Homo sapiens: one gene and its partner. The protein of the gene in region 1 purifies or fractionates together with the protein of each later gene. This does not show direct contact. Each region holds a gene or a part of one and is shown in the gene's direction. Other genes may lie near its edges.

Evidence for each region. Proteins that work in one complex are often made in the same cells at the same time.
Region 2: the proteins of PNLIP (region 1) and SUMF1 purify together in Homo sapiens (affinity purification with mass spectrometry; 2 studies listed by BioGRID and IntAct, with this or other methods). This does not show direct contact.

What each region holds. Positions count from the first base shown.
Region 1 is NC_000010.11:116,555,853-116,559,611, forward strand, and holds part of PNLIP (pancreatic triacylglycerol lipase precursor), read left to right. Parts: intron 1-147; coding exon 148-266; intron 267-3,301; coding exon 3,302-3,431; intron 3,432-3,759. UniProt on the Homo sapiens protein: Plays an important role in fat metabolism.
Region 2 is NC_000003.12:4,453,626-4,457,384, reverse strand, and holds part of SUMF1 (formylglycine-generating enzyme isoform 1 precursor), read left to right. Parts: intron 1-3,759.

The sequences.
Region 1 (3,759 bases):
TAAATATACTTTACAAATGACTTTGTTCTGTGACCTGCATGAGCTCACACTAATTAGAGAAATCTATTCAACCACTATATTCTGAATATGACGTTAACTTGGAAAAATAAAATCTGTCCTTGATGTGTAATTGTGTCTGATTCAAAGGGACTCGAGACTTTGCGGCCTGTAATCACTTAAGAAGCTACAAATATTACACTGATAGCATCGTCAACCCTGATGGCTTTGCTGGATTCCCCTGTGCCTCTTACAACGTCTTCACTGCAGTAAGTAGACTCCACCTTCCGCATAAAGAATTTTGTGACTGTCACTTCTCATGACTGGTGTGCTTTCCTATACATGACATCATTCAATGAATGTTTATACTTTTGAACTTATACATGCCTTTAATTATATGTATTTAAATAGTGATAAATTAGAGCACTTTAGAGAAATGAGCTTGTACATGGAAATGTCCTGTTTACTTTCATTTGTGTTACTTTTGTATGCATTGGGTAAATGTCCAAACTTGTTTTAGAAATAACCCTAAACAGACAAAAAATAATTAGTCTATGGAAATCTGAGCAATATCTGTAGGATGCTGATGAACATGGAAAAATTTTCTTAAATGCTGACCTTTCTAACTATTAATATATAATTATAGACATGTGGACATTTCTGTGCAATTTCATAATGGCCAAAATTTTTTTTTGAATTTTCATCTTATTTGGTATTCTCTTGATATCTTGGTTGAATTATTTATTTAATTTTACTTTAAGTTCCAGGATACTAGTGCAGAACGTGCAGGTTTGTTACATAGGTAAATGTGTGCTGTAGTGGCTTCCTCTTGGTTGAATTCTTTATATGTGATCTCAAATATGACATATCTATTGTCTGGGTTTTTTTTTTTATAAAATTGACTTTGCTTTGTACCATAAATTTTTGAAATAAAAATTTAAAACCTATGGATTTAATAAGAAAATTTCCAGTAACAAATGTGCCAGCTGAAGTCACAATTACCCAGGATATATACCTTAGTGATTAAGAGAGAGGATGCAAATCTTGGTTTCACCATTAAATAGCTGAATATCTTTGGGCAAAACAGTTCTCCAAGAAGTTTCTTCATGTATAAATGTAAATACTGATGGCAAACTTAACATATTTGGTGAGAGGACTTAATGAGAATACATACGTTAATTGCTTAGCCCAGAGCAAAAAAATATAATAGCATTCAATTAATGTTAGCTATTATGGGAGAGGGAGTACATATATTATTCACACTACAGCTTCCATATGCAGTGAGACAGAAGATCCCTTCTTTATTTATTTTAACTTTATTTTTATTTTCTTCCCCAATACCCAACAATAAGTAATGGGGGAAAAAAATAAAGAAGCAAACACAAAAGCCTCAGGTTTCATTCAGTTAAAACTTAGTCTAATTCAACAATATAAACAGTTCTTTCAAGTGATACTCATCACTTGTATAAGAAAAAATGTCTCAGTCTTGCAGATTTCTTCACCTTTGCACTCCCTTCTAAGCTTCTCTCCAAGTGAGTGCTGGGGCCAGGTGATCTGGTGGTGGTGGTCGATGTGTGTTCAGCAGAGGAAATGAATTGGGAGTCCATGGGTGTAAAGTTTTTGGGCTCCTTTCGACTCTGGGTAATAGCCTTGCCTGTTTTATTGATGGGCACACTGCTGTATTTAGAGATGACGTCTTGGGCTTGTCTATTCTTCTGGCTCTAGCAATGCCCTCAGAGAGCTTTGGCCATTTCTTCCCGGCTGGCTTAGGCAACACCTGGATTTTGTTGAATGCCAACCCTGGGACTGTGATAAGCCCATAATATGGTCCATTGAGCCAGGAGTCCACCACTTGCCTTCACTGTAGAGTAGCCCTGCCCCTCACAGTGGGAATTGGGACACTTGTCCTGCCAACTTGGTTCCTCCCTCTCCATCTCTTTTTCCCAGAAGTCCTTGGTCCAGAAATAAGGGGTATTTTCCTATACGAATATGTCTTCTCCAGGTATCAGCCTCACAGTAAGCCTTAGGCTAGCTGGGGCATTTTCTCTTCACATAGAGAAAATTCCGGGATCTGAATCCTTCAGGGCTTGATATGCTAAACATGAGCTAAAACAATTGAAAAAAGCCGGGCGCGGTGGCTCATGCCTGTAATCCCAGCACTTTGGGAGGCCGAGGCAGGTGGATCAGGAAGTCAAGATCGAGACCATCCTGGCTAACATTTTTAAACCTTTAAAAAAAAAAAAGAATTGAAAAAAGCCTGACTTTTGAGCCTATTGTCCTCCTAATAAATTCTATTTTGTTTATCAGAAGCTGATTATAATCTCTGTTCTACTTATGCAATCTTTCTTTCTTTTTTTTTTTTTTTTGAGACGGAGTCTCGCTCTGTCACCCAGGCTGGAGTGCAGTGGCGCTGTCTTGGCTCACTGCAAGCTCCACCTCTTGGGTTCACACCATCCTGCCTCAGCCTCCCAAGTAGCTGGGACTACAGGCGCCCGCCACCATGCCCGGCTAATTTTTTGTATTTTTAGTAGAGACGGGGTTTCACCATGTTAGCCAGGATGGTCTTGATCTCCTGACCTCGTGATCCTCCAGCCTTGGCCTCCCAAAGTGCTGGGATTACAGGTGTGAGCCACCATGCACAGCCAACTTATGCAATCTTTCTAAAATAAATTCTAGCTGTAAGTAGATGAATGTCTTGGGAGCAAATTAGGCAAAAGAGAAAAAATAGAAGATAGATACACACACACACACACACACACATATTCTCTCATTGTATGATTTGTTTTTTTTTTGAGATGGAGTCTTGCTCTCTTGCCCAAGGCTTAAGTGCAATAGTGCAGCCTCGGCTCACTGCAACCTCTGCCTCCTGGATTCAAGCGATTCTCCTGCCTCAGCCTCCAGAGTAGCTAGGATTACAGGCGCCTGCCACCATGCTCAACTAATTTTTGCATTTTTAGTAGAGACGGGGTTTCACCATGTTGGTCAGGCTGGTCTCGAACTCCTGACCTCTGGTGATCCACCTGCCTCAGCCTCCCAAAGTGCTGGGATTACAAGCGTGAGCCACCACGCCCGGCTCGTTGTAGATTTTTATAGTATTGTGTTGTTTGACAGTGAAGTTGGTGACTTACTGTTGTGAATAATGAAATGCATTGTTAATCTTTGCTGCTGAGACACTATTAAAGTCCCCATTTATCATCAGAACAGAACTGGCTTTAGAATATTTGAATGGCGACAACATGTAGGAAATATGGTACACAACTAAAAGATAGGGCATCCTCATTCATCATTTGTTTGTTTTCACTAGAACAAGTGTTTCCCTTGTCCAAGTGGAGGCTGCCCACAGATGGGTCACTATGCTGATAGATATCCTGGGAAAACAAATGATGTGGGCCAGAAATTTTATCTAGACACTGGTGATGCCAGTAATTTTGCACGTAAGTTTCTGTTTTCTGTATCTTATATTCTTATTGCTATATATTTTATTATTATGTCCACTGAAAATGTGCATACTTGCTTTTCTATACAAAAGCTTTAAACACCCCCTCTGCAAGGTGGAAAAATGCTCAATGCTATGTTCAAGGTAATTATAGCTAATTAGGGTGGCAGAACGGAGTTTGGGTCCTGGACTCTTAATGCTGCAAAAATAAGTTTCTTCATATTTGATTCTGGTGCTGAATTCAGAAGGCTTTCTCTGCTCCAGCCTCTTTATATTCAGTCAAAAGTTTCACTGAACAAAATTCTGAGATTTTTGTAAAAGCAGAA
Region 2 (3,759 bases), on another chromosome or scaffold:
TTCCTTGAAAAATGACATTAGAATTTTGATAGGAATTACATTTGATAGGAATTACATTTGATAGAAATTACATTGAATCCTGGCCTGGGATTAATTTCTTAATATCTTTTTCAGATAGTTTGTCATTAGTATAAAGAAATGCTGGCTGGGTGTGGTAACTCATGCCTGTAATCCCAGCACTTTGGGAGGCTGAGGTGGGTGGATCACCTGAGGTCAGGAGATTGAGACCATCCTGGCTAACATGGTGAAACCCTGTCTCTACTAAAAAAAACAAAACAAAACAAAAAAAATATATATATATACACACACGTATATATATATATATACACACACGTATATATATATACACACACACGTATATATATGTACACACACGTATATATATACACACACGTATATATATATACACACACGTATATATATACACACACGTATATATGTACACACACGTATATATATACACACACACGTATATAGATATACACACACATATATATACACACACATATAGATATACACACACATATATATACACACACGTATATATATACACGTATATATACACACACACGTATATATATACACGTATATATACACACACACGTATATATGTGTATATATACACACACACGTATATATGTGTGTATATATACACACGTATATATATGTATATATATACGTATATATATATACACACATATATATATACACGTATATATATATATACACACACATATATATATATACACGTATATATATATATATATTAGCCTGGTGTGGTGGCGGGTGCCTGTACTCCCAGCTACTCAGGAGGCTGAGGCAGGAGAATGGCATGAGCCCAGGAGGCAGAGTTTGCAGTGAGCCGAGATCGTGCTACTGCACTCCAGCCTGGGCAACAGAGTAAGACTCCGTCTCAAAAAAAAAAAAAAACAAAGAAAAACATGGCATCTACAGTCAGGGACAACATAACGTCTTTGTTTCCAGCTTGGATGCTGTTTCTTTCTTTCTCTTGCCTAATTGCTCTGTCTAGTATGTCCGGTATTACATGGAATAGAAGTGGCAAGAGTATGCATCCTTGGCTTGTTCTGAATCTAACAGGCAAAGGTTTCCATTTTTCCCCATTGAGTATAATGTTAGCTGTGGGCTTTTCATATATGACTCATGTTAAGGTACATTCCTTCAATGCCTAACTTGTCAAGAGTTTTTCTCATGAAAAGATGTTGAATTTTATCAATGCCTTTGCATATATTGAGGTGAACATTTGGTTTTGTCCTTCATTCTGCTAACATGGTATATCACATTTGTAGTTTGCATATGTTGAATCATCCTTTGATCCTAGGGATAAACCCCACTTAATTTTGGTATATGATCCCTTTAATGTGCTGTTGAATTCACTTTGCTAGTATTTTGTTAGAATGTTTGCATCTATGTTCATTAGGGATATTGGCCTGTATTTTTTTTTCTTCTAGTAGTATTCTTGTCTGGCTTTGGTGTCAGTGTAATGCTGGTATCATAAAATGAGTTTGGAAGTGTTTCCTCTTCTTCAATTTTATGGAAGAATTTGAGAAGGATTGGTATTAGTTCTTCTTTAAATTAGAATTCTGCCATGAAGCCATCTGGTTCTGGGCTTTTCTTGATGGAAAATTATTATTATTATTATTATTATTTGAAACGGAGTCTTGCTGTGTCGCCCAGGCTGGAGTACAGTGGTGCAATCTCAGCTCACTGCAACCTCCACCTCCTGGGTTCCAGTGATTCTCCTGCCTCAGCCTCCCAAGTGGCTGGGATTACAGGCGTGTGCCACAACACCCGGCTAATTTTTTGTATTTTTAGTAGAGACGGGGTTTCACCGTGTTGGCCAGGCTGGCCTGAAATTCTTGACCTCAGGTGATCCACCTGCCTCGGCCTCCCAAAGTGCTAGGATTACAGGTGTGAGCCACTGCACCTGGCCAATTTTTAAAATTATTTATTCAGTTTCCTTATTTGTTATCAGTCTGTTCAGATTTTCTACTTTTTCTTGATTCAGTCTGGGTAGGCTGTATGTTTCTAGGAATTTATTCATTTTTTTCAAGGTTATCAAATTTGTAGATATATAATTGTTTATAAGTAGTTTCTTATGATCCGTTTTATTCTGTGATATTGAACCCTTGTTTATAGATGAGGAACTTGACAATTCCTAAGCTGCTGAGGAGTCTATTAATTGGCTCACTCAAATGATTTGAAAATAAGACATTGTGTCTGTAAAGAGTGTATTTCTGACAGATGGTATGGTTGAAGGCCTGTGGTTTTTGAAAAAAGTTGAGATAGAATTCATATAGAATGCAATACACTCTTTCAACATGTACAATTCAGTGGTTTTTAATATAGTTATGAGGTGTTACAACTATCACTGCCTAATTCCAGAATACTTCATCATCTCAAGAAGAAACTCTATGCCCATTAGCAATCATTCCCCATTCCTGCCTCCCCCTAGCCTCTGGCAACCACTAATCTACTTTGTGTCTCTTTGGATTTGCCTATTCTGGACATTTCATATGAATAGATTCATACAATATGTGGCCCTTTGTGATTGGATTCTTTCACTTAATATAGTATTTTCAAGGTTCACGCATGTTGTAGCATGAACCAATACTTATTTATGTCTGAATATTATTCCATTTTATAGATATACCAAATTTTGTTTACTTATTCATCAGCTGATATACATTTGGATTGTTTCTGCTTTTTGGCTATTATGAATAATGCTGCTATGAATGTTTTTGTACAAGTTTTTACATGGACATATGTTTTTATTTCTCTTGGGTATATACCTAGGAGAACTGCAGGGTCATATAACTCTTCGTTTAGCTTTTTGAGAAACTGCCAGACTGTTTTCCAAAGCAGCTGAACTATTTTACATTCCTACCAGCAATATGTGAGGGTTCCAATTTCTTCACATCCTCATCAGCACTTGTTGTTGTGTCTTTTTTGTTATAGCCATGCTAGTGATCATGAAGTGGAACCTCATTATAGTTTTGATTTGCATTTCCCTAATGACTCATGATGTTGAGCATGGACCTGCATTTTTTAACTGAAAATTTTCAGTGTCATCCTCAGATCCTGTGCTCAGTGTTGGGAATAGAGCTGTGAATAAGGCAGCCCCAATTGCTGTCTTCTTGGAGTTTAGAGTTCATGTGGGAAGGTAGATAGGAACAAAGTAGTTGCAATTAGGGTTTTTATAAGGAATTATACAAACAGCCCCTTAGTAAACTTTAAAACTTTCTATTTTAGTGAGGTAAGCCTTTTTCATGATTGTTGGAGGCCAAAATTCATGCAGTGGTTATTTAAAGATATTATAGATTGCATTTTTACATGTGCTTTTAAAAATAATTCAAAAGAAACAAAAGCATATGCGAATAAAAAATGTATAAAGAAAAAAGTGGGGCTGGGCACAATGGCTCATAATCCCAGCAGTTTGGAAGGCCGAGGTGGGAGGATCACTTGAGCGCAGGAGTTGCAGACCAACCTTGGCAACATAGTGAGACCTCATCACTTAAAAAAAAAATCAGCTTGGCCGGGCGCAGTGGCTCACACCTGTAATCCTAGCACTTTGGGAGGCCGAGGCGGGTGGATCACCTGAGGTCAGGAGTTCAAGACCAGCCTGGCCAACTTGGTGAAAACCTGTCTCTGCTAAAAATACAAAAATTAGCCGGGCATGGTGGTGGGCGCCTGTAATCCCAGCTACTCAGGAGGCTGAGGCAGGAGAATCACTTGGACCCG